Homo sapiens: one gene and its partners. The protein of the gene in region 2 purifies or fractionates together with the protein of the main gene of each other region. This does not show direct contact. Each region holds a gene or a part of one and is shown on either strand. Other genes may lie near its edges.

Region 1 (3,500 bases), on a different chromosome or scaffold from region 2:
ATACATGACACAATCTTAACTTCCTCGTCTCCCTGACAATCTAAACAGTTCGTAAATTCAAAACATAGTAATGCATCAATCCCAAATAACTCCATTACTTCTTTCTTTGGCTTAAGATTTTGAACTTCTTTTCCTATCAACAGCACCAAATTCGGGGGGAGGGGGTGGAGAGAAACAGTTGTTCTGTAACACTTACCTCCTCTTGTGCAATGCCCTGATTATTAGGTACTACCCAAGGTAACAGCTCTTGGGGATCAAGCCTGCCATCGTTATCTTTGTCATAATCATTCACGAATCTGTCTTTCTCAACAAGTATCCATTCTGGATCTTCATTTGCAGCTTAATATAAAAAAACACAAATATACATACACAAGAATATCACATGTATCCAATAAGAAGTTTGGTATATCCCTAGAATAAAGGAAGTGAATTTAAAGTTTACTAAAGAAAGCCCAATAAAACAGAACTACTTAACTGAAAAGTCCTGACATAAGAACAAATATATAGTCATTTTCAAAAGTGACACGAGTCTAAACAACCCAGTTTTAAAATCATTGGATGTTTTCACAAACTAGTAATTTTGTTAACTGCTATTTGTTCCGATATCTAGTTTTCCCAGATGTGAGGTGGGTAATGTTTTACTGTATATCATGTTTCTATACAAAGTTTCTTACATGTTTTCACAAAGTAATGCCATGTGTAATTTTAAAGTGACAATCAGAATAAGTAAAACTGGTGACCAATTTAAAAATGGCATTGTTTGGTGTCTTTAAGCAACAATTCTGAAAAAACAGCTGCTTATATAAAAGCAAACTCTTAATTTCAAACACTTATTCACCTTCTACTAAGCTTCTGATACTGTGTTTACACCAGTATTTGTAGTGTTTTATGTTTCTATCTCTTTTAAGATCCACCTGCAACAGCACAGGATTTTGTTTAAAAATATCTACCTTACTTCCTTCCCCATTTAAACTGATAATAAAATTAGATTTGTTTGAAAAGAAAGAAAAATGTTTGACTCTAGACACGGAAGTAAAAGTAAGCAAGACAGCGTTCTCAGATAAGCTATAAATCCATTTGTTGAACTTGTATTACAGTTAACGAAACAAGTAGGATCAGACACAGATCCTCATTACATTTCCTGTTGAAGAGAGCTTTCAATGAGCAAGGCTGTCTTTCAATGTCTTTCTTCAATTCCTTTTCTCTTTTCACATTCTCCCAGGTGACTTACTTGGATCCCACCTGTAATCACCAAGAAATTCTTCCAAACTAACAAATCCATCACCATTTTTGTCATGTTCTTCTAAAGCTTCTTGAATGACAAATTCCTATTCCACGTTCATTAAAAAAGAAAAAAAAAAGTTACAAAATGTTCAGTCCCACTGCCATCCGATTCAATTCTACTACAGAACTTCTTTAGAAATAAATGATAATTTTTGGAGCTCTAGTGGTGCAATCAGCTAGTAAGGTACTTATACAGGAAAAATCACTTTGGTTGTCCATATCTTCAAGACAATCCTTCTAAACACTGGAATTTAGAAGCAAGAATAAAACCTGAAGTACTATGTAGCTTTAAATTCAACATCCTTAAGCTTCTGATATTGTGAAGAACTCCACTTTCACTCTCATAAACAACCTCAGCGTTACTCTCATGCTATTTTCCGCACATCTCTCCCTCTCAAGAAAAGCATCTTATACTACCTTTGTCTTTAACTTCATTTGCCCTCCAATCCATGAACAACCCTAAAAGAGCCCTTACCTTAGAACTGCTGTTCTGCCTCCAGATCTAAAATGTACCAGCCCGCCATTATACCTCAATCTCCTTGCTTCCCCTTCAGCAAACCTAGCCCTATCCATCCCAAACTGCCCCCAAATCTGTTCCTCCCTCTTATCAAAGCTTCTTATCAAACAACCAATCCTTTTCCCTAAAGATGACCTGTTCAATGGCCAGCTGTTTCAGTACTTTCCTCAATATCTTCCTATCTCCTTTTTTTTTTCAGATGGGGTCTTGCTCTGTAGCCCAGGCTAGAGTACAATGGTATGATCTCAGCACACTACAACCTCTGCTTCCCGGGTTCAAGCAAATCTCCTGCCTCAGCCTCCAAAGCAGCTGGGACTACAGGCGTATGCCACCACACCCAGCTAACTTTTATATTTTTAGTAGAGACAGTGTTTTGCCATGTTGGCAAGGCTGATCTCAAACTCCTAACCTCGGATGATCTGCCAGCCTCAGCCTCCCAAAGTGCTGGGATTACAGGCGTAAGCCACTCCGCCTAGCCCTCCCCCTTCTTTTTTTTTTTAACATAGGATCTCATTCTGTCACCCAGGCTAGAGAGCAGTGGCACAATAATAGTGGCATCATAGGCTCCAACTACTGGACTCAAGTGATCCTCTCACCTCAGTCTCCCAAGTAGCTAGGACCACAGGTGCATGCCACCACACCTGGCTAACTTTTTTGTAGAGACAAGGTCTGCTATGTTGTCCAGGCTGGTCTTGAACTCCTAGCCTCAAGCTGTCCTCCTGCCTTGGCCTCCCAAAGTGCTGGGATTACAGGTGTGAGCCACCATGCCTGGCCCATCTCTGACTCTTGCCTTCCCTTAACACTTATTTAGTAAGTCAACATTCCTGCATATGCTTTCTTCAAAATGTTGCTCAAATCTATTTCATTCAATTGCCAGATAGAACTCTGGGCCGTATCACATTATGCCTAAATTATTTCATTGCTTTTACTGGTAATTCCCCTCTTTAGTCTTCAATTGTTCCTTATTCTCCAGAGAATCAAGATCTAGCATCCTTTGCCTGTCATTCTTGGGCTCAATTAGCTTTTCCCAACTTAATTTTGGTACTTAAATTACACCCAGCACTGTTCTTAAACTGGGTCATGTATTCTGTGCCAATGAGAAATTAGAAGCTTCACAATGGCAAGAGAAGTGGTATTAATGACAGTGTCTTACCACTGAGCTATGGAGAAAAATGTATCTGCAGCCTTGTTATGCAAGGCAGCAGGGTCTACCATGACACATTAAACAAAAAGATATATCTTCCTTCTTTGAAATATCCAGGGAACCAAGCCACGTAGCTGGAGGCTGATGTCATGCAACAGACTTCAATATAAATGTTTAGTCTCTTTTTTAAAAAGCTATTTGTTACATTAGTCTTTATTTCCCAGTGTGATGGTTTATGCTTTCAAGCTTGGCCAAGTCATAATAGGGACTCAATTTATGTTTGTTGAGTTAAACTTACAATTCAACAAAAGTTTTGAAAAACTGGTACTTATTTTAAATATTAAAGGGATGAGAGGACTCATTATACTTAAAATTGCAAAAACATTACTAGTTAACTAGCAGCTGCACCCCTACCAACCCTATGAAGAATCCAAACATGATGTTTTTCCAGACCAAAAGCTTTCATAAGTGATGTTGTAAATTAAACAGAAATCCTAATATTACTAACATTGAAAAACCAAAAAAAATCTGAAAGCTACAAAAGGATAAGGAAGG
Region 2 (3,500 bases):
TATAGTCTCTCTGAGCCTCAGCTTCTGCATCTTTATAGGGTACAGAATTTTTTCCAACCTTGCAGGGCTGTTGTAAAAACTTAAAGAGATAATATATGCAAAGTTCTTAGTACACTGCTGACATATAGTAGACAATCATATGCTGTTATACTACTAATAAAAAGTAATGAGTAGGTGGCTATCACCATGCCTGTTTTCCTCCACATGGCTATCCTGAAGGATCTCTCTGATGTCATGAGTCCCATCAAGGGGCATCTGAGGGCACTGGGCAGTCAGAGCCACATCAGGAGCTTGACTAGAAGTGGAAGTGAGGTGTCTGGCCATGGGTGAGGTCCCCTTCAGGAAGGTGAAGGGATGGCTAGGGTCAGCCTAAAAGGGATAAAGACGACCTCTTGACAGCACAAGCTCTCCAGTCCATTTTATCTCCAAAATACCCCACTGTGCCAAAAAGCCCACATCTGCCACCTGAGCCAAGAGAAACAAGGTCAAATGACCAAACATTCTTACCCACTCTGGGTGAGCAGCCATTTGAAGAGTGTGTGTGTGTGTGTGTGTGTGTGTGTGTGTGTGGGTTGGAGTGGGAGGAAGGGGCAGGGTGGTTCTGTCAGACAGATAAGAAGTAAAGGGAATGCCCCAATCAAATGTGGCCTTCACAAATGGATGGTGACACCCTTGCTCTTCCCCTTGCTACTCCCTCCCTCTTGTGTGTGGCAGAATGACAAATGTAATCATTTTAAAAGGTCTCGTCACCTGCTCAGTCATTCCCAATAAGCATACGCAGCACTATGGAAAAACCAACACTATTGCCTCTGGGTTTTGGCCAGGAAAAAAAAAAATCAAATCACCAGGACACCACCAACCACACTGTCAAAGACAAAATAAAAAGCTTCATGAATTCTCCATCAGCAATATAACGCTTCCTAGCCTAAGCAAATATAGACCCAGTATATGAATTGTGGAGGGATTTTGCATTAGGCTCCATGGTTTCTAATAGCTGAGGCAGAAACCCCTAAGAAATCTATGTTTCCATAAAGCCACCTTTATTGGCTATAATCCTGCTAGGGTGAAGACTGTAATCTCCTTCCTGAGCCCCCTTCCTCTGATGGAAAGCTTCACATCCCAGCATCATGAATACATTTCTGTGACCTCAGCTGGAGAGGAGACCTCGGAGAGACGGAATTACCATGACCTCACCGAGCACCTGTCCCTCCTTCTGATGATATTGCTGCTTCTGTGTCTGACCACATGATCCATTCAGACCATCTCACAGTCACCCAGGTCATTCAATCACTGACTCAGACTAAAAAGCAAGACTGATACTGCTTTAGAAAGAAAGAATAAACCACGTGCCTTACTGCGAAAAATCCAGGTTCAGAGTCACTTAGAGAAAGTCTGCTCAGAGCTACTGAACGCTTGAGTGTCTGTGGCAGCACAGGAGAAAAGCATAACAAATGGGAAAATGGCCTGCAAAATATACTACAAAGAAAAAATGCAGAAAGGATCCAAAAAGAGTGCTCTTGGTGTCTTCTGGTAATGGACATCTGAACCCTCCGAACTTCTCAACAGTCTCCTCCCTCCCCAACAACTGCCCTGACCTTCTCCCCACGCTGCCCCATATGCGCAAATGCATATACAAATGCAGACATCACCTCACCCCGAGACTTCACACGCACACAAGGCATGGCTGAAAAAAGAATTGGTGACTTAATTTTCTTAGCTCTATAAAACACATGCCCCGACCTCAAAAAGAAAACTCAATTCCCAGCAAGCTACCACCCCCAAACAGATGACTCATGGGCTTTACCCTTCGGATAGAGCAACTTCCCCTGCCCCCAACACTTGGGTAAGGGACTCCCTCCTCCTCTACCCATGGTGACACCATCCAAGGTTTCAGAGGTCATCCAGCTGCCCTCCAACCTCCGTCCTGGTTTCATCCACCAGCGCTGACTTACCCCAGTGTGGTCATGGTGACAATGGTGTACCAAAACGAGGCAGGGATGCTTGTGAACTTGCTGGCCGAGGAGCCCTTCTCGGCATAAAACATCACAGTGGCAAAGATGATGATGGCCATGGTGAGGGAGAAGAGAAGAAAGCCCAGTTCGGAGGCACAGCTCTTCAGTGTGTAGCCCAGGATCCGCAGGCCCTGGGAGTGGCGGGAAAACTTGAAGATCCTGAAGACGCGGAAGACCCGGAGCGTGACGAAGGCGCCGGACACGTCCTCGTTGTTGGTCATGACCAGACCGATGTAGTAGGGCATGATGGCCACCACGTCGATGATGCTCATGACGCTGCGGATGAAGCGGTAGCGGCTGGGAGCCGCGAAGAGCCGCAGGAGGTACTCCACGGTGAAGATCATGACGCACGCCGTGTCCAGGCAGAAGAAGGCCACCGAGTAGCGCTCCCCGCACGGCAGCTCCTTGCTGCCCGGGACCGTGCCGCACGGCACCGTCTCCACCACGTTGGTGATGACCGAGACAGCGATGAAGAAGCCAGTCACGTAGTAGAAGACCAGGGCCAGCGTGCTGGTGTGGGGGTTCTCGAAGGCCCGCCACATGGTCTGGCGGAAGCTGAGCGAGGGCATGGACTCCTGGTTGTTCTCCGAGTCGTTGTCGTCCATGAGCCGCTCGGCGTTCTCCCTCTTGCGGTCCTTGTACTCCTCGTAGCAGCAGTCCCCGATGATCTCCGGGAGGATGCCGTAGAAGGCCAGCTCGTCGTCGTAGGCAGAGATGCACTCGTAGCGCGGGTAGTGCAGCTTCCCCGTGCGGTAGAAGTTGAGCACGCAGCGGAACACCTCGGGGTCCCGGTCGAAGAAGTACTCCTTGGTGTCCTCGTTGAAGAAGAACTCCTTCTCCGTGCTGCCCAGCAGGGTGTCCGGGTAGCGCTCCAGCGTGGTCCTCCAGGTCTGGAACCTCCGCCCACTCACGTTGAGGACAATCAGCTCATCCTGCCGCTTGTTCTTGTCGGCCGGGGCCAGGGGCATGGGGCAGTTGGCCACCGGCATCCACCCGATGGCCGCAGCCCGGGCAAAAGGCAGCCAGGCCGCAACTCCGGCCGCCATGGTGACTCCAGCTCTTGGGCCGGCAGCCGCGCGGACGCTAGGCACACCAGCTTGGAGTTAGTTCAGCAAACCCTGGGAGACAGGAGGGGAGAGAGAGAAGCGGTGAGTCCATATCGACTGGCAGGTAAGAAATGGGACACAGGAAAGGATCACTGGTGAGTGAAACGGCCAAAGTCTCCAGGGCAGATTAATAAAACTGAAATCCCCACCACAGAGAGGGGACTTGATTCTTTGCCATCCAGACACTGGGAGAACACCTAGCTCCTGGAGCTCGGCAGGGTGGGATCGCCAGATGTTGCTGACTGCCTGACAAATCGTCAAGCTCCAAGAGGGCTCAAGAGCATTTGGAGGGAAGGCCTCTTTAGCAGGAAGATCTGGCAAGACGTGGGTAATAATCAGCTCTGAAAGGTTATGGCGTTATTACCAATTTAAATTGGGAGAG
Region 3 (3,500 bases), on a different chromosome or scaffold from region 2:
AATTCTATGCCTCCCAGTAAATGTTTTCTTGTGCACTAAAGAAAGTCCTAGCTCTGTGAAGTCAAGGCAAGGGCATAATAGATCTATAGCACTAACCAAACATAAAAAAGTTTCATAAACTCAGAACAATCTTATTAGCAGAAAATTAAAAGCTAAGATAAATGAATCCAAAAATCCTAAGGAGACATACTTAAAACCCAGAAAAGCTATATACAGAACATCAGTAATTAGCCTAATTTTGAATTATATTATGTCCTGCTTCTTAAAAACTAAACTAATCTATTACCAATTCTGACCACTATACCCTCAACCAATTATTTCTTTGCAGGATTCAAATTCGCTTACATCATCATCATCATCTTCAATAGCTTCTCCAGTAAAATATAACACTGATCTTGGGATTATACGCTCACGTAAAAAGTGACCAATTTCGAAGTCTGCAGCAAGGATAGCTTCAGCATCATCATCCTATTTTTAAAGGAAAACAAAAGCAGAAAATTTAGGAATAACTGTGTTACTTAATTTGGCACATGTAAGACTCTTAGAGGCTGGGTGTGATGGCTCACAACTGTAGTCCCAACACTTCAGGAGGCCAAAGTAGGAGGATCACTTGAGCCCAGAAGTTCAAGAGCAACCTAAGCAACATAGTGAGACGCCCCCTGCGTTTGTACAAAAAATAAACAATTAACTGGGCAGGGTGGCACACGCCTGTAGTCTCAGCTACTTGAGAGGCTGAGGTGGGAAGATTGCTGGAGCCCAGCAGCTTGAGGCTGAAATGAGCTGTGATCACACCAGTGTACTCTAGCCTGGGCAACCGAAAAAAAAAAAAAAAAAAGACAGACTCTTCAGTTTAAATTATATGATGAAGGGAAGAAATGCTCAACTTTACTTTTTACTTTCCATGATTTTTCTCACACCATGTTAACAAATGATTTGTCATTTTTAAATTTCCTTAATAACTTTTCCAAGTTTTTAACAAAAAGAAAATAAGCTAGCAGGCCAGTATGCATACTAAGATAAATTGTGAAGAATAAAAATTAGAACTGCTTAGTTTTTGCTGGTTTAAACATAAATACATAAAAGCAACTGTTACATGTCCGCAATTTTCCTTTTAAAATATTATTGAAAACACCAAATAGAAAAATAAAAAAAAAAACCCTTGGGTTATTGTTAATATATAGTTATTGTTAATATTGTTAAGTACATAGCAAATAGAAGGACATAATAAACAACCACAGAGGATCACTTTATAGTTCCTAAAAGACAGTACCCAAACAGCTGTACAGTTTTAAGTCTACTAATCCCAAATGAGACAGTCCTAGTTCAGAAAGACAATATACTAACTAAATCAGGTGCCCCTAGCACTTTTCTTTTTTAGAGACAGGGTCTCGCTATGTTGCCCAGGCTGGCCTCAAGTGATCCTTCCACCTCCGCCACCAGAGCAGCTGGGACTACAGGTGCCTGAAGCTGTACCTGGCTTAGGATTTCTATTTAATAGAAAAGCACAGGGCAAAAGTGGGTCTGACATTATTCACAATTAAAATAATCCCACTTTGGCCTGGCTCATGCCTGTAATCCCAGGACTTTGGGAGGCCAAGGCAGGCAGATTACCTGAGGTCAGGAGTTCAAGACCAGCCTGGCCAACATGGTGAAACCCCGTCTCTACTAAAAATACAAAAATTAGCGAGTTCAATGGCACGTGCCTGTAATCCCAGCTACTCGGGAGGCTGAGGCAGGAGAATTGCTTGAACCCGGGAGGCAGAGGTTGTGGTGAGTGGAGATCGCACCACTGCACTCCAGCCTGGATGACAGAGCAATACTTCATCTCAAAAAAAAAATAATAATAATAAAATAAAATAATCCCACTTCTATGATACTAAACAATGATACAAGTTCTATGATACTAAACAATGAGCACACCCTCTGTGAATTCCATGAATGTTTGAGTCAACAACATAATCTAATAAATAGAAAAATCCAAAAGGGGGTGGGGAGGAATTCAAACCACAGGTGGAGGTTTTCTATCCTTAACTAGACTGTTTTGTCATCATCAATATTTAGTAACAAACAAACAAACAAACAAAAAAAAACCCCAAACTTGAACACAAACTCCAACCCATCCACTGATATGAAAATAGTGTGATGCTCTATCTTAATACTTAAAGTAGTTTTTCTCACCTGAAATTCACACTGCTTTATGTTCTCTTTTTTTGTCCTATAAGCCAAGCCAGAAATACTTACTTTTGCCTTTTACAAATTTGTTCTAAGTCTTAGCCAAGAGTATTCCAATTCAAAAGTATTCAGTTTAGGTTAATTTCTAATTCCATATATGTACAAACTATTTAAACTATCTCAGTTAATTTAAATTCAAAAACATGCCCAAAAGAAAACCAAATTCAAAACATACCTGCCCTACCTTGTGTGTATAGACTTTCTTTAAGGTTGTTCCTCAGTTCAGTCTATATGGCAGGAACATTTCATGTTCTTTGCCATATGCCATATATGTGAACATACTTAGTCACAATATGAAACCATATTTACATTGGAGTAACAAATTCAGGAATGAATTTGAACCATAATGTAGTTAGGAATGTAACAGTATAAGTGACTTAATATATTCTGGTTTTACTAAGGAAGACAACAGTTTTGAAAAGTTAAATCCCTCACAGCAATATGTGAAGTTTCAAAAGAAAAGAAAACCTTAAGCTTTTTATCTCAGTGTTTCTCAGCAGAAGCACTGATATAATTTTGAATGGAATTATTTTTCATATCCAAAAAGTCTGCCCCATGCATTGTAGGCCTCAGAACTCAATGTAACAACCATCCCACTCTCCATTTTTGAAATTCAGTGCTTTAATTTCAAATATACTTAACAATTCAATAAATATATAACAATTCAACTTACCAGATCTCCACTCTCAGGAACTGCAAAATTGAGAAAAGAAATTACAATGAATAAGAAGCTAAGCAATGCTTTTTATAAAACAACCGTTAATACTCAAGCTAAAACATTATTTACCTTCAGGAGGGGCAAAAAAGTTAAAGAAAGAGTCATTGGAAACTGTTTTAGTCACAGTACGAACTGTCCCACGTCCCTTGTGTTTCTGCTTCTTCTTAATAGTTTTCAAAGTGACATTCTTTCCTTTTTTCCAATCTATCTGGCACCTTGCAAAACAAAGAAGAAAAATCTATTACAATTGACAATCTTTCAACTGCTAAACTTTTAGAAGTAAATGTTCTATTTAGATTTCAAATTTTAGAAGGGTGAATTGCTTCAAATGTTTTCTATAGCAGTATAAAGGGAAAAATTTTATTTCTAAGCAAATATTTAAAATAAACACATTTACAATTAGCACAAACACATAGTATAATTTAAAGAAGCATTCCTCTGCAAAAATATATGTGAGACAGTCATGGGTCCAAGGAGAATTACAGGAAACTTGATAAGCACTTTTCAGAAAACATATTACCAAAATGTTCAGAGACAGACTATGTACATA
Region 4 (3,037 bases), about 110 Mb from region 2:
CACATTTTGCAATGTAATGTCACAATGTAACGTCGCAGCAGGAAGAATTGAGAGGTGAAGCTGTCTGATCTCATCTCACAATTCAGGCTTAGAGTCAACTGGAAATCCAAACAAGCACTAAAGCACGGTCAGCAGGCACAGTACATGTGTGTGTCTCGTGTGTCTCTCACACACGTACTGTCTTTCAAATGCACAGATGCTTCTGTGATTCATACAAATGCATTTGAAAGTATGACTGGATCTACAATAGTTTTAGCATTTCTGTATTTTCTCAAACAGCAAATACTAAACACATGACCATTTTCTGGGAGTTAGGATTCCCAACTAACCCCTTTGAGTTCCAACATTCTGAGAGTTTTAAACAGCAGTTGGCCAGGGGTCCCAAACAGATGATCCTAGGAAAACAGGAGGCTGGGCAGGGGTGGGAATCTAAGGGCTCCTGTCTTGGTCCCAAAAATCTCAGTTTCAAGCAAGAAAGGGAAAAAAAAAAGGCTCCAAAGTGATCAAAATGTTGCTACATTTTATTTTCAACTTAAAACTTCATTATAAAATTTGCCAAATAAACATGTCAAAAACAAACTTAAAAACAAAGTGTAGCTGATATCCAGAAATTGCAGCACTGTATTGATAAAGGGCTCTTTTCATTACCAGGGAAAGAATTTAATGTCCTTCCTTCCTCCCCAAAAGCTTCCTTGGTGCAATCCAGTACAGAAAACGCCACCACTTTCTGATGCCAGGAGAAAAGCAAAATAAAAAAACTGCTTGCACACATTAGCACTGATAAAACAATGACAATTTCACTAAAAGAATGTTTAAAGACTACCGGATGCTGGAGCAAACCAACTTCATGACTGCATTAACATAAGCTAAGTTACATACACTTCAAATGCAGTATAGAATTAACACTGCATATCTAAATGGCTCATATATAAAATGTGTAATTAAAACCCAAACATACACACTATGTTTATTACATTCCCCTACATTGAAAGTACTGAGAACAATTTAACTCTGAACACAAAAGTTTAGTGAATTTGCTACTGTTCCATTACAGGACAATTAAAAATGAGACTATATCAACTTCACTAGAATTTAATTGCTAAAGCTACCTTATGCACATCTATTAAACTAAAAGAAACGACTTTAACCCCTTCAGTTGTTTTTAAGACAGCACTCCTTTACAGGGAGTCAGGTTTGGTAAATATAAAGGATACATAAAAAATACAGTATAAACTGCATAAGCTTAACAGTAGCAAAAACACTGATGAACTTTTAAAAAGTCAAAAATATATAAAAATATTAGCCTGAAATGGCAAATTTTCAAACACCGATCTGTGTAAAAATGTTTAAATATTGATGTTACTCCAAAAATATATACTTATTCTATTTTTTTTCTATTTGCAACAGTTTATAAAGGCAAACAAACACCTGCAATTGAGGTAGCAAAGCCAAATTCACAAACTTTGGATCAAGAAAAATACCCTTCCTATGTTTTAACAGCATCTTCTATACAATAGTGAATGAATTCTAATTGTTCCAAAATTTTTAATTCACATTACTTTACAAAATTTTATTTAAAATACTGAAAATGTTTTGTTAAAAAGACAGTTAGTCCTGACAATCATCTCACATTCAAAATACTGTACAAAAAAATCTGAAGTCACCATATATTACAAAAAACTAAGCTATGTATTTACATTTTCAATGTAGTTTTAGAAGTTGAGGTTAAGCCAACTGCTACAAATGGTCTCCTTTAAGCAGTGTCTGCTAATAATGTCATCACTTTTCACTTTCAGCATTTAATATAGGCCCTTCTTTTTGCTTTCAAATTATATAATTAGTAAAGGATTTAAAGAAAAACAAATGAAAATTCTATTCTCTTACTGAATAAAACATAAATGTACTTTAAATGGAACAGTGTTTTCATTTAAGAAAAGCCAACTGGCAAAAAAACATCAAAATTTGAAAAGTAATCAGAAACCATAAACATCAATAGCATTCTTCACAGTACATTTATATTAAGACTGTCTTCTGTTTTCAGATTAAGGGTTGAAAATTTCCCATTAAAATGCAAATTCTCACATCCTTACTTGTATTTTTCCTATGTTAACTGTAAGTTAATACAAGTAAACACGGCTATATTAAAAGATCAACTACTCGGCTCCATAGTCCTGACTCAAAAAGAAAAAAAAAAGTACAGACCCTGTCAGTGCAACAAAAGAAAGTTTCGGATTTTTTTCCTTGTTTTTGCAAATGGCAGCTGGAATTGCAGGAGTATTTTGTAGAAAAGCCAGAAGAGCATTAGTAGATGTATGGAAATATACGGTAGGGCACACGCTGACAGTACTTTTCCCAAGCCACGCCGTATTTCTTCTTACAGTGGTACTCGTCACGAGCTTCTCGGTGGACAAGCAACATGGTGAAATAAATTATGTAGAAATAAGGCAGAATGTGGTTAAAACCTGTGGATAATAATAGTACACAGTATTAGATATTTTTATTATCACTACAATGTATTTTTTCCTGCTTTCCCCCAAATTCTCTAAAAATGGAACCACAAGGTACTTCATTTTCTCTAATAATGATGAGAATAATTAAACAAGTCTGTAAAATCCCACTGGAAAGTGGCAGAAGGTCGTATCTAAATTAGAAGCTACTCAAAGACTGATGAATCCATTCTAACAATCCATCACAATCAAAACATCTGTCCTCATAGTTAATACACATCTCTTCATTTCTCGCCCTTCTTCCCCCAGCAAAGAAGAAAAACTGCTGTCTTCCACCACAGGCTGGGCCACCAAACAGGCAGCAGGCACGGGCCAGCTCCTCCACCTCCACCAGCTCCCCTGGATCCCCCTGCTCCCCCAGTTCCCCCAGCTCCCCCAGCTTCCCAAGATCCCCCTGCTCCCCCAGTTCCCCCAGCTCCCCTGGCTCCACCAGTACCTCCAGCTCCCCCTGACACCCCAGCTCCCCAAGCACCTCCAGCTCCCACAGCTCTCCCTGCTCCCCTGCTTTCCCAGCTCCCCACGAGGCCAGA
Region 5 (3,285 bases), on a different chromosome or scaffold from region 2:
GGGTCTTTGGCACTGTGGTTAGGTTAGCTAATTCGATTATCCACTCAAGTTTTACTCAGTTGGAAATATGTTTTTCTAGATGATGGTGCCTGTGCTTAGGTTTGAGAGGATATTTAAAATACGACTTTGTGTGCCATTGTTTGACAGTGGAATTAAGGGTAAAAATATTTAGATATGGAAGTGTGAAAATGTAGTTGCATTGTTTTCATTATGTTCTATTCCATTTCATTCTATTTTAAGAATAGCCTCAATTTATTTTTAGATTGTTACATAAGTACAAAATCCATTTGCTTTAGTGGGAGTTTTATTTTTATTTTAAAATGATAACCAATTAAAGGAGTTTATTATGAAATTCTAAGTAGCATTGTTTAAAATGTAAAATTACATTACAGAAACATTTGGAAAGGGGAGAATAAAAGAAAACAAAACACAAATGTTGCCAGTGCTGTAGGTGCTATTATTAGCGCTTTGGTGTAACTCATGGTCGTTTTCCTACTATTTTTATTATACAGTCATCTCTTGGTATCTGTGAAGTGGTTCCACAAACTCCCTCAAATACCAAAATCCTCCTATGCTCAAGTTCCCAATATAAAATAGTGTAGTACTTGCATTACAACCTTTGCACATCTTCCCATATACTTTAAAATCATCTTTAGATTACTTATAATACCTAACACAATGTAAATGCTGAATAAGTAGTTGTTAACATTGTATTGTTTAGGGAATAATGGCAAGAAAAGTCTGCATGTTCAATACAGATGCAACTTTTCCACTGAATATTTTTATTCCAAGGTTGGTTGAAGCCATGGATGCAGAACCCATGGATATAGAGGGCCTACTGTACTTGTACCATCTAGAGATAAGATTTGTATCTTGCATTTGTTTTAACATATCTGTTCTAAGGAATATCTCAGTCACCAGGCAAGTGCTGCAGTATAACTAGGTACTACGTCAGGTGCTAAGGTTAAGAGAGTATTTTCCTTCACTGACTCCTCACTCCGAGAATCCATTTTACAGCTTCATTGGTTTGGGTTATTCCAATTTTTTGATGTGAGTAAATAAATGACTTCTATTTGCCCAAAATAAAGCTTATATAGGCCTTATAACCATGCAAATGTGTCCATTAAGTTGGACTTGGAATGAGTGAATGAGTATTACTGCCAGTGTGTGTGTGTGTGTGTGTGTGTGTGTGTGTGTGTGTCTGTCTGTCTGTCTGTCTGTCTGTCTGTCTGTCTGTCTGCCTGCCTGCCTGCCTGCCTGCCTGCCTGCCTGGCTGCCTGTCTGCCTGTCTGCCTGCCTGCCTGCCTGCCTGCCTGCCTGTCTGTCTCACTTTGTCCCCTAGGCTGGAGTGCAGTGGTATGATCTCGGCTCACTGCAACCTCCACCCCCCGGGTTCAAGCGATTCTTCTGCCTCAGCCTCCTGAGTAGCTGGGATTACAGGCGCATGCCGCCATGCCCGGCTGTTTTTTGTATTTTTAGTAGAGACGGGGTTTCGCCATGTTGGCCAGACTGGTCTCAAACTCCTGACCTCAGATGGTCCACCCGCTTCAGCCTCCCAAAGTGCTAGGATTACAGGCATGAGCCACCGTGCCCAGCCACTACCAATTATTTCTCTTAATGGATTTTCATTGACCCTAACCCTGTAAATTCCATCACTTTTATCAAGGTGTATATTATAATAAGTCTATAATACCCAATCATGTAGTTGTGTGATTATTTTATTTTTTTGAGACAGAGTCTCAATGTTGCCCAGGCTGGAGTACAGTGGCACCATCTCAGCTCACTGTAAGCTCCGCCTCCTGGGTTCACACCATTCTCCTGCCTCAGCCTCCCAAGTAGCTGGGATTACAGGCGCCTGCCACTTCACCGGGCTAATTTTTTGTATTTTTCGTAGAGACGGGGTTTCACCATGTTAGCCAAGATGGTCTCGATCTCATGATCCACCCACCTCGGCCTCCCAAAGTGATGGGATTACTGGCGTGAGCCACCATGCCCAGCTATTTTTTTAACCAATATATTAGCTAGCTTTTTTCCCCAGAATAATTTTCCAAAAATACATTTAATAGAGAATAAAAGTTAAAAGAACTTTCAGTGGTTTAATGCTGTTACTTTTAATATTTCAAAGATCTGACTGCAGCCATGAGCAGCAATGAGTGCTTCAAGTGTGGACGATCTGGCCACTGGGCCCGGGAATGTCCTACTGGTGGAGGCCGTGGTCGTGGAATGAGAAGCCGTGGCAGAGGTGGTTTTACCTCGGATAGAGGTATTTTGTCGAATAGAAAAATTTGAAGTACTTCAGTATTTGTTAGTATCAAGACTGGTCTGACTAGCCGAATTCTTTGTTTTTGCTCAAAACAGGTTTCCAGTTTGTTTCCTCGTCTCTTCCAGACATTTGTTATCGCTGTGGTGAGTCTGGTCATCTTGCCAAGGATTGTGATCTTCAGGAGGATGGTAAGTATTTAACACTTCCTTTTCATACCCCTCTAGAGCTTGGAGAGGTGAGCACATGCAACTGTGTATAGCATTTCCACCTTTGAGGTTTTGTATTGTATAATTTAAAACGTAACACTTTGTAAAGGTTTTATAGTCTTGGCCTGTTTCTTTTCCTTATTGTTGAAGCCTGCTATAACTGCGGTAGAGGTGGCCACATTGCCAAGGACTGCAAGGAGCCCAAGAGAGAGCGAGAGCAATGCTGCTACAACTGTGGCAAACCAGGCCATCTGGCTCGTGACTGCGACCATGCAGATGAGCAGAAATGCTATTCTTGTGGAGAATTCGGACACATTCAAAAAGACTGCACCAAAGTGAAGTGCTATAGGTAAGGTGTCAGAATGTTGTTAGAAGAAAACTCATTGCAGAGATTCTTCCAGAGATGAATTAGCTATAAATGGAAGGGCCTTAGTAAATTCAGTGAAACTTAGCTGTGACCAGATAAGACCAATTTTCAGCATATGTAACTGGCAGTCTATCTGTATATAATTCTGTATTCTGCCCTGATATCCTGTGGCTTATGGTACCTGGGCAGTTTTCACAACTGGACTTTTTTAATATATAAAAGTAAGAGTGTTATAATTTGAAACTTCCAGAGACTTCATAGAAAGCTCTGTAATATACATAAATCTTTTATCATGTAACCAGAAATCTTTGCCTGTTTGTGACATGTAAGTGTATAATTTGATAAATGTTGTTGTGTACATATCTGTGAAACCTTAGGGGTTAATTGCATGAAAACAAAGATCAGGCGTTTTGTTCTGCATGGTGACTGTTGCTTTGGTAGACAGTTTT
Region 6 (3,500 bases), on a different chromosome or scaffold from region 2:
GCCTGGTCTACATAGCGAAACCCTGTCTCTACTAAAAATACAAAAGAATTAGCCGGGCGTGGTGGCGCGTGCCTGTAATCCCAGCTACTTCGGAGGCTGAGGCAGGAGAATCGCTTGAACCCGGGAGGTGGATGGAGGCTGCAGTGAGCCAAGATCGTGCCACTGCACTCCAGCCTGGGTGACAGAGTGAGACTCTAACTTGAAATAATAATAATAATAATAATAATAATAATAATAGGCTGGGCATGGTAACTTACGCCTGTAATCACAGCACTTTGGGAGGCTGAGGTGGGTGGATCACCTGAGGTCAGGAGTTCGAGACCAGCCTGGCCAACATGGTAAAACCCCGTCTGTACTACAAGTACAAAAATTAGTTGGGCATGGTGGCGTGCACCTGTAATCCCACCTACTTGGGAGGCTGAGGCAGAAGAATCGCTTGAGCCCGGGAGGTGCAGTGAGCCGACATTGTACTGCTGCACTCCAGCCTGCCTGGGTGACAGAGCGAGACTCCATTGCAAAAATAATAATAATAAGGAATGGCAGGCAGTGCTAACAAATACAGTAATATTGTGGTATTGTGGGTAATGAAAAAATACAATAGCACAATGAGTCATGTTAAAAATACTGTAGTATCAGAGGTAATGATGAATATAGTATGGTATAGAATGGAATATTTTTACATGCTACAATAGGATTAATTTTTGAAATACTATAGCATAGCATGGTGGGTAATAAAAATACCCGCCATGGTGGGGAACGTTAAAAATACGCTAGTATGATGGATTATAATAAAAATACTGTAGGCCAGGCGCGGAGGCTCTCTCCTGTAATCTCGGCACTTACGGCGGCTAAGGAGGGAAGATTATTTGAGGCCAGGAGTTCAAGACCATCCTGGGCAACATAGCAAGATCCAGTCTCTACAAAAAAAAAAAAAATTGCCGGGCGTAGTGGCTCACACCTGTAGTCCCAGCTACGTGGGAGGCTCAAGCAGAAGGATCGCTGGATTTCGGGAGTTCGAGGCTGCAGTGGGCTATGATCACGCCACAGTATCCCAGCCTGGGCAACAGAGCAAGACTTGGTCTCTTTAACAAAAAACAAAAAACTGTTGTGTTTGGCAATATTATGATAGTAAAATATATTGTGTAATATAAAATATCCTATAGTGGGTAATATAAAATACTATAATATAGTGGGTAATGTTTAAAAGGCAATACTACATATGGTGGGTAAAAAACACTAGAACTGGGTGGATAGTGCAGAAAACACAAACTCTGCAGGGCCAACATAAGGAACTGCATATGATGGTAAATGCTGGTAATAGCACAGGCTGTGGGATGTAGTGTCATACAGTGGGCAATCCTAAAAAAGAGAGGCTCAGGCCAGGCGCAGTGGCTCACACCTGTAATCCCAGCACCTTGGGAGGCCAAGGCAGGTGGATCATTACCTAAGGTCAGGAGTTCGAGACCAGCCTGGCCAATGTGGGGAAACTCCATATCTACTAAAAATACAAAAATTAGCTGGGCTTGGTGGCACATGCCTGTAATCCCAGCTACTCGGGAGGCTGAAGCAGGAGAATCACTTGAACCTGGGAGGCAGAGGTTGCAGTGGGCCGAGATCACGCCATTGCACTCCAGCCTGGGCAATAATAGCAAAACTCCGTCTCAAAAAATAAAAATCTAAATTTAAAAAAAAAAAAAAAGAGGCTCTATTGGGTCACGGCGTACAGAGGACACAACACCCTGGCCAACTGCCAAACAACAAGATGGAAAGAACCTGGGTGGCTGAACAGTGCCCTGGAGCCTCCCACCCTCTCCCCATCTCACCTCTGCAGATTTGCAAGAGCAATAACACAGGTTTTGTAAAGTCCCAGTACCGCAGGCATCTTTGTCACAGCAACTCCGCAGGCGGGGCTCCATCATCCATGTCTGCGGGTGACCCCCACCCCCCAGCATCGTGACAAACACCAGAGTGGCTCAGACATGCCTGCTGAATTGCATTCTGCTACACCAATTTGACAATAAACGTAAAAATGCTAATTATAAAAAGAAACCCACAGGCTCTGGCTGATCACAGAGTACAGTGAATCATGCCAAGAACAGAAACACAGTCACCCAAGCTCCTCTGGATTCAAGTCCAGCTCCCAATCACATGACCTTGGCCACATAACCTTCCCTCCCTGAGCCTTGGTTTTCTCATCCGTAAAATGGGGATAGGAAGAGCCCCTACCCCAGAGGGTGGGGAGAGGATTCACTAAGGGACTCCGTGTAAGGCACTGAGGCCGGCACCCATCTCACAGAAAAGATGGGCAGTGCGTGTTGCCCATGAGGATGTGTGTGCCGTGGCCCTGAGAGACCTTTCTGCCACGGCTTGTAGCTGCTTCAAGGCCTGGGCTGTTTCCCCAACTCTAAGCCAGTGGCCACAGGGCGCTGGACAATTGCAATTGATGCTGAGCAGAAGATGGATCAGAGAAGGGGCGGACCTCCCTCAGAAAAGGGGTCCAGGGTGGCTGAGGCAAAATGATGAGACGTTCAAAAGCGCTGTAGGCCCTTGCTGCTCAGAGGGTGGGCCCCGCACCTGTGGCCCTTCACTGCCTCACCTGAGAGCTTTAGAAAGGACCCCTAGGCCCGCCCCAGAGGTGTTGAGTGAGACTGCAGGCCAGCGCGGCTCCCCCGGGGCAGGAGTGCAGAGGGGTGTGCGGAACTCTGCTCTAGGTGGCACGCTCTCTTGCCTCATCACCACAGAGGGCAGCAGGGCTGAGCTACTCGAACAGTAAGAACCGCCACCCTCGCCACCACCTGCAAGGCTCTGCTGGAAGCCAGGCGTGTGCCTGCAGCTGCTCAATCCTCATGAACCCCATGATGGAAGAATGGCTCAAACCACACCCCGAGAAACACATCGGATTATTATCCCGGGCAAGCCCAGGACAACCCTTTGGCTCAGAGACAGAAGGCACCTGCCAGAGGTCATACAGCACAGGTGACAGAGCTGGGTTCTGTACCCGGAGCGTCTGTGGGGGACAGGCATGCTTTGACCTCTCCGTGGGCTGGAGAGAAACAGAGGCCAGAGCTGGAGTGGGCAGGAGGGGCTGCTCCCCTCCCCCTCAGCCCGCTGCTGTGGGCGGTTGGCTGGCCAGGCACAGAGCCAGCCTGTCCTGTCCACTGCCTGCCATCTGTCCCTCCATCTGGCTCTCCGGTGGGTGACGGTAAAGGGGCAGGCAGCACCCGACTCACCTTTGTCCACTACCTCAATGTGGATCTTCTTGACGACGCTGGTGTTGTGCTCGTAGTTTTCGAAGAAGAGCAGGCGGTAGACGTGGCACTCGTAGTCGCCCGAGTGGTTGTAGGTGACATTGGTGATGAAGATAGACAGATCCTGCAGGTCTTTGGTGCCCCGGCTGCCATTCCACACCACGCGGCCCTCGAAGCGCTCATCCTCCTCCAGCTGCAACACCTCATTCTCATAGCGCAGGATCTAGGGGTAGCCAGGGAGGGGAAGGTGTC
Region 7 (2,709 bases), on a different chromosome or scaffold from region 2:
CAGAAACAATGTCAGGATGGCCTTATATGATTACACTGGCCAAACCTTAGTCCAGGGCATAGGAAAAAGGTGAGAACACGTGCTTGTGCTGTAAGCCCATGCTATTGTTAGTAACTGCGTGAGGAGGGCTTTGGAGGGTTTGCTCAGCCCAGCCGTGAGGGAAGTCTGCTCTCCGGTTCTCACGGCTCTGGTGTCCTGTGGGCCACATTCCATGACGGCAGCATGCAGCATTTCTCTGAATGGACCAGCCCTGGAGGATGCCCTTCTATAAAACCCTATAAATGTTCAGGACTGAAGTTTTACATGCTGGGCCAAACTAAGTCTCTCTCAAAGTTCTCCCAAACCTTCTCTCCACATGGTTCCTTCCAGCAGTATCTCAAGCTCAGTGTGGTTCCTGAGCCCAGGAAACAGCACTGCTATAAAGATGTCAAAAAGCATTGGACACGCCTCAGTAATGAGGATGAATGAGGCGTTGATGAGACAAAAAGGAAACAGGTCTGTGTGGGCATGAAAGAGATGAACAGGCAGGAAGAGTGAGAAGTGCACCAAGACTCCTGCATTTGGAAAATGAATGGACCAGGCCCTTGCATTTTAGCAAGGTGACAAGTATCTAGCAGGCAGGGGTGGATTTCATTATTTTGACCCATAGGCTGTTTTGTTCATGTGAAGGTTGAAAGAAATCCTCTAACCAGTCCTTGAAAATATCAAGAGGTCTTATTTGCTACAGGAGCCTCAATTGGTAAAAATGGGAATAATAAGATTTTAGAAGACTCAGATTTTGAAAAAAAAAAAAAAAAAGGCAAATTATAGAAAGGCTCCCTGCTTTGGCTGGTAGTTGGATTATAGGACTTCTAAGTTGCCAACATTAATCAGACATTTGGCTATTTCAGGGCATTTTTCATTTGCCAAAACACTAGTAATTACCACTATCTTATTACCTAGAGAGTGCTAAGTGCTTCACTCATTAAATGTCACTTAACCTCCCTGCACTGGCTGCTGTCATTCCATAGTGTGGGCAAGGAGCCTGTATGAGGTACGCAAAATGCATCATCAGGCACAAGAATGCAGACTTTTGTGACTCTGTCACCTCAGCAAGCAGTTGGTGAGTGTTTGCAATGTGTCAGGCACTGTGCTTTTTCAAAATCATATTATGTCCAATAAAAGATAAGAGCCTGCTTAGAAGTATAAAGAAAATCCCCAGAAATTAAACAATGAGTCAATTTCTTAAAGATTACTATTTTTCCTTACTGGCAAAGCAACTTCATCTACCTTGCCTATAGCTGCAAATCAGTTGTACAGAAACTAATTTCACCTGCAAGCATGTGTCAATAGTTGATTGTGGTGCAAAGTGATGCACACCTTGACATTGTTCATCTGCCCATCAGAGCATGGATGCTAGCTGCAGTCCTCACTAACTCCCTAGACACAAGTGGCTTTTGGTGATGTCACAGGTTGTATCAACAGAAACCTCTCCTCCCTGGAGATCTAGAGATGCTGTCTCTGTCATCAGGTGTTCAAAAGAATGACTTCTTTGACAGCTTATGGACAGTAATCTAAAACTAGGCAAAGTAAAAACTCCTTCCTGTTTCATGCACGCTCTTAATGAAATATTTGGTCATTGCATGTCAAGACGTTGTCTTGTCTTGATGCTGGCACATCTCATATTGAAAACTGGACTGGATCAACAATGTGATCATAAGAAACCAGCCTTCTCCATCTCAAGAATGCTTCTGACTCTCCTTCTGCCTTCTTGTCCCGAGAGTAGCATGGAGAAACCTCTCCCCCTCTCTGGTGGCTGACATCACTTCCTGAACACGCTTTGGCTGGCTTTCCTGTGAATGTCTTGGGTTATACTGATAAAACTCAGCAACTTCTTTTCTCACAGGAAAGCAACGTGCTTGGCATAGACATTCCCGTAGCTCAAAGTGCTGCAGATACAGGGGAGGTGAGGCAGTGGGGCTCACACCCGAGGCTCGATCCTGTGTGAGAGCTCAAACAGAGCCTGCTGGCTGTCAATGACATACAGGTGATTAACATAGGACTTTAACTCTTGATGCTCTTTTGGAGACAGGTCACCTGTTGTTTAGAGGGGGAAAAAAGACAATCTCAGGAGAGCAGTAATGCTGTATCTACATACCAACAAAACCCCACACTAAGGCTGAGTAAATGTACTAGGTGGGTTCTCATTAGTCAGAATCCCATAAGAGGTGTCCTTGTCCTACAGTAGAAATGCTTTTTCAGCTCAGAATGGATTCCTCAGGTCAGGCAATCAGACTGGCAGGATACTTATAGCATTTATTACCTAACATTGTATATTATTTAGAAATTACGTTATTATCTCATTCCACAGATGGGGAAACTGAGCACAGTCACGCAGCAAGTTAACTGTCACAGCCAGGATTCGGACCCAGGACAGATGGTTCCTGAGCCCTTTTAGGTAGCCTTTCACAGCAGTTACCTGTTTAAATGGCCAGCACTGGGTCCTATATCTCAGTCTAGAAGCGTTGAAAATCGCTGATAATGTATTTAGCATATGAATGCAATCACTCTTTTTCTGTTGTTTAGATTTTGTACAATTCTTTGGTATTCTCATTTTTTGGAAAAAAAAATTTAATGGAGCAACTGAATGAACAGATACAACAGAACAGACTCTAAGATGTGGTTAACAGACGAAATAGCTTCAGAAAGTATGTGTATGGACTAAAGTCT

Evidence for each region.
Region 1: the proteins of KCND3 (region 2) and RCN2 purify together in Homo sapiens (affinity purification with western blotting, with the first as the bait; one study listed by BioGRID). This does not show direct contact.
Region 3: the proteins of KCND3 (region 2) and NAP1L1 purify together in Homo sapiens (affinity purification with western blotting, with the first as the bait; one study listed by BioGRID). This does not show direct contact.
Region 4: the proteins of KCND3 (region 2) and LBR purify together in Homo sapiens (affinity purification with western blotting, with the first as the bait; one study listed by BioGRID). This does not show direct contact.
Region 5: the proteins of KCND3 (region 2) and CNBP purify together in Homo sapiens (affinity purification with western blotting, with the first as the bait; one study listed by BioGRID). This does not show direct contact.
Region 6: the proteins of KCND3 (region 2) and SCN1B purify together in Homo sapiens (affinity purification with western blotting, with the first as the bait; one study listed by BioGRID). This does not show direct contact.
Region 7: the proteins of KCND3 (region 2) and RAPGEF5 purify together in Homo sapiens (affinity purification with western blotting, with the first as the bait; one study listed by BioGRID). This does not show direct contact.

What each region holds. Positions count from the first base shown.
Region 1 is NC_000015.10:76,945,249-76,948,748, reverse strand, and holds part of RCN2 (reticulocalbin-2 isoform a precursor), read right to left. Parts: intron 1,329-3,500; coding exon 1,232-1,328; intron 340-1,231; coding exon 197-339; intron 1-196.
Region 2 is NC_000001.11:111,979,669-111,983,168, forward strand, and holds part of KCND3 (A-type voltage-gated potassium channel KCND3), read right to left. Parts: intron 3,131-3,500; 5' UTR 3,059-3,130; coding exon 1,953-3,058; intron 1-1,952. UniProt on the Homo sapiens protein: Pore-forming (alpha) subunit of voltage-gated A-type potassium channels that mediates transmembrane potassium transport in excitable membranes, in brain and heart. In cardiomyocytes, may generate the transient outward potassium current I(To).
Region 3 is NC_000012.12:76,050,186-76,053,685, forward strand, and holds part of NAP1L1 (nucleosome assembly protein 1-like 1), read right to left. Parts: intron 3,166-3,500; coding exon 3,020-3,165; intron 2,926-3,019; coding exon 2,906-2,925; intron 469-2,905; coding exon 346-468; intron 1-345. UniProt on the Homo sapiens protein: Histone chaperone that plays a role in the nuclear import of H2A-H2B and nucleosome assembly.
Region 4 is NC_000001.11:225,401,002-225,404,038, forward strand, and holds the end of LBR (delta(14)-sterol reductase LBR), read right to left. Parts: intron 2,463-3,037; coding exon 2,302-2,462; 3' UTR 501-2,301; downstream 1-500. UniProt on the Homo sapiens protein: Catalyzes the reduction of the C14-unsaturated bond of lanosterol, as part of the metabolic pathway leading to cholesterol biosynthesis.
Region 5 is NC_000003.12:129,170,612-129,173,896, reverse strand, and holds part of CNBP (CCHC-type zinc finger nucleic acid binding protein), read left to right. Parts: intron 1-2,125; 5' UTR 2,126-2,139; coding exon 2,140-2,263; intron 2,264-2,358; coding exon 2,359-2,451; intron 2,452-2,613; coding exon of another isoform or gene 2,614-2,619; coding exon 2,620-2,818; intron 2,819-3,285. UniProt on the Homo sapiens protein: Single-stranded DNA-binding protein that preferentially binds to the sterol regulatory element (SRE) sequence 5'-GTGCGGTG-3', and thereby mediates transcriptional repression. Has a role as transactivator of the Myc promoter.
Region 6 is NC_000019.10:35,033,470-35,036,969, reverse strand, and holds part of SCN1B (sodium channel regulatory subunit beta-1 isoform a precursor), read right to left. Parts: intron 3,472-3,500; coding exon 3,231-3,471; coding exon of another isoform or gene 2,872-3,230; exon of another isoform or gene 1-2,871. UniProt on the Homo sapiens protein: Regulatory subunit of multiple voltage-gated sodium (Nav) channels directly mediating the depolarization of excitable membranes.
Region 7 is NC_000007.14:22,120,446-22,123,154, forward strand, and holds part of RAPGEF5 (rap guanine nucleotide exchange factor 5), read right to left. Parts: intron 2,077-2,709; coding exon 1,961-2,076; 3' UTR 1-1,960. UniProt on the Homo sapiens protein: Guanine nucleotide exchange factor (GEF) for RAP1A, RAP2A and MRAS/M-Ras-GTP. Its association with MRAS inhibits Rap1 activation.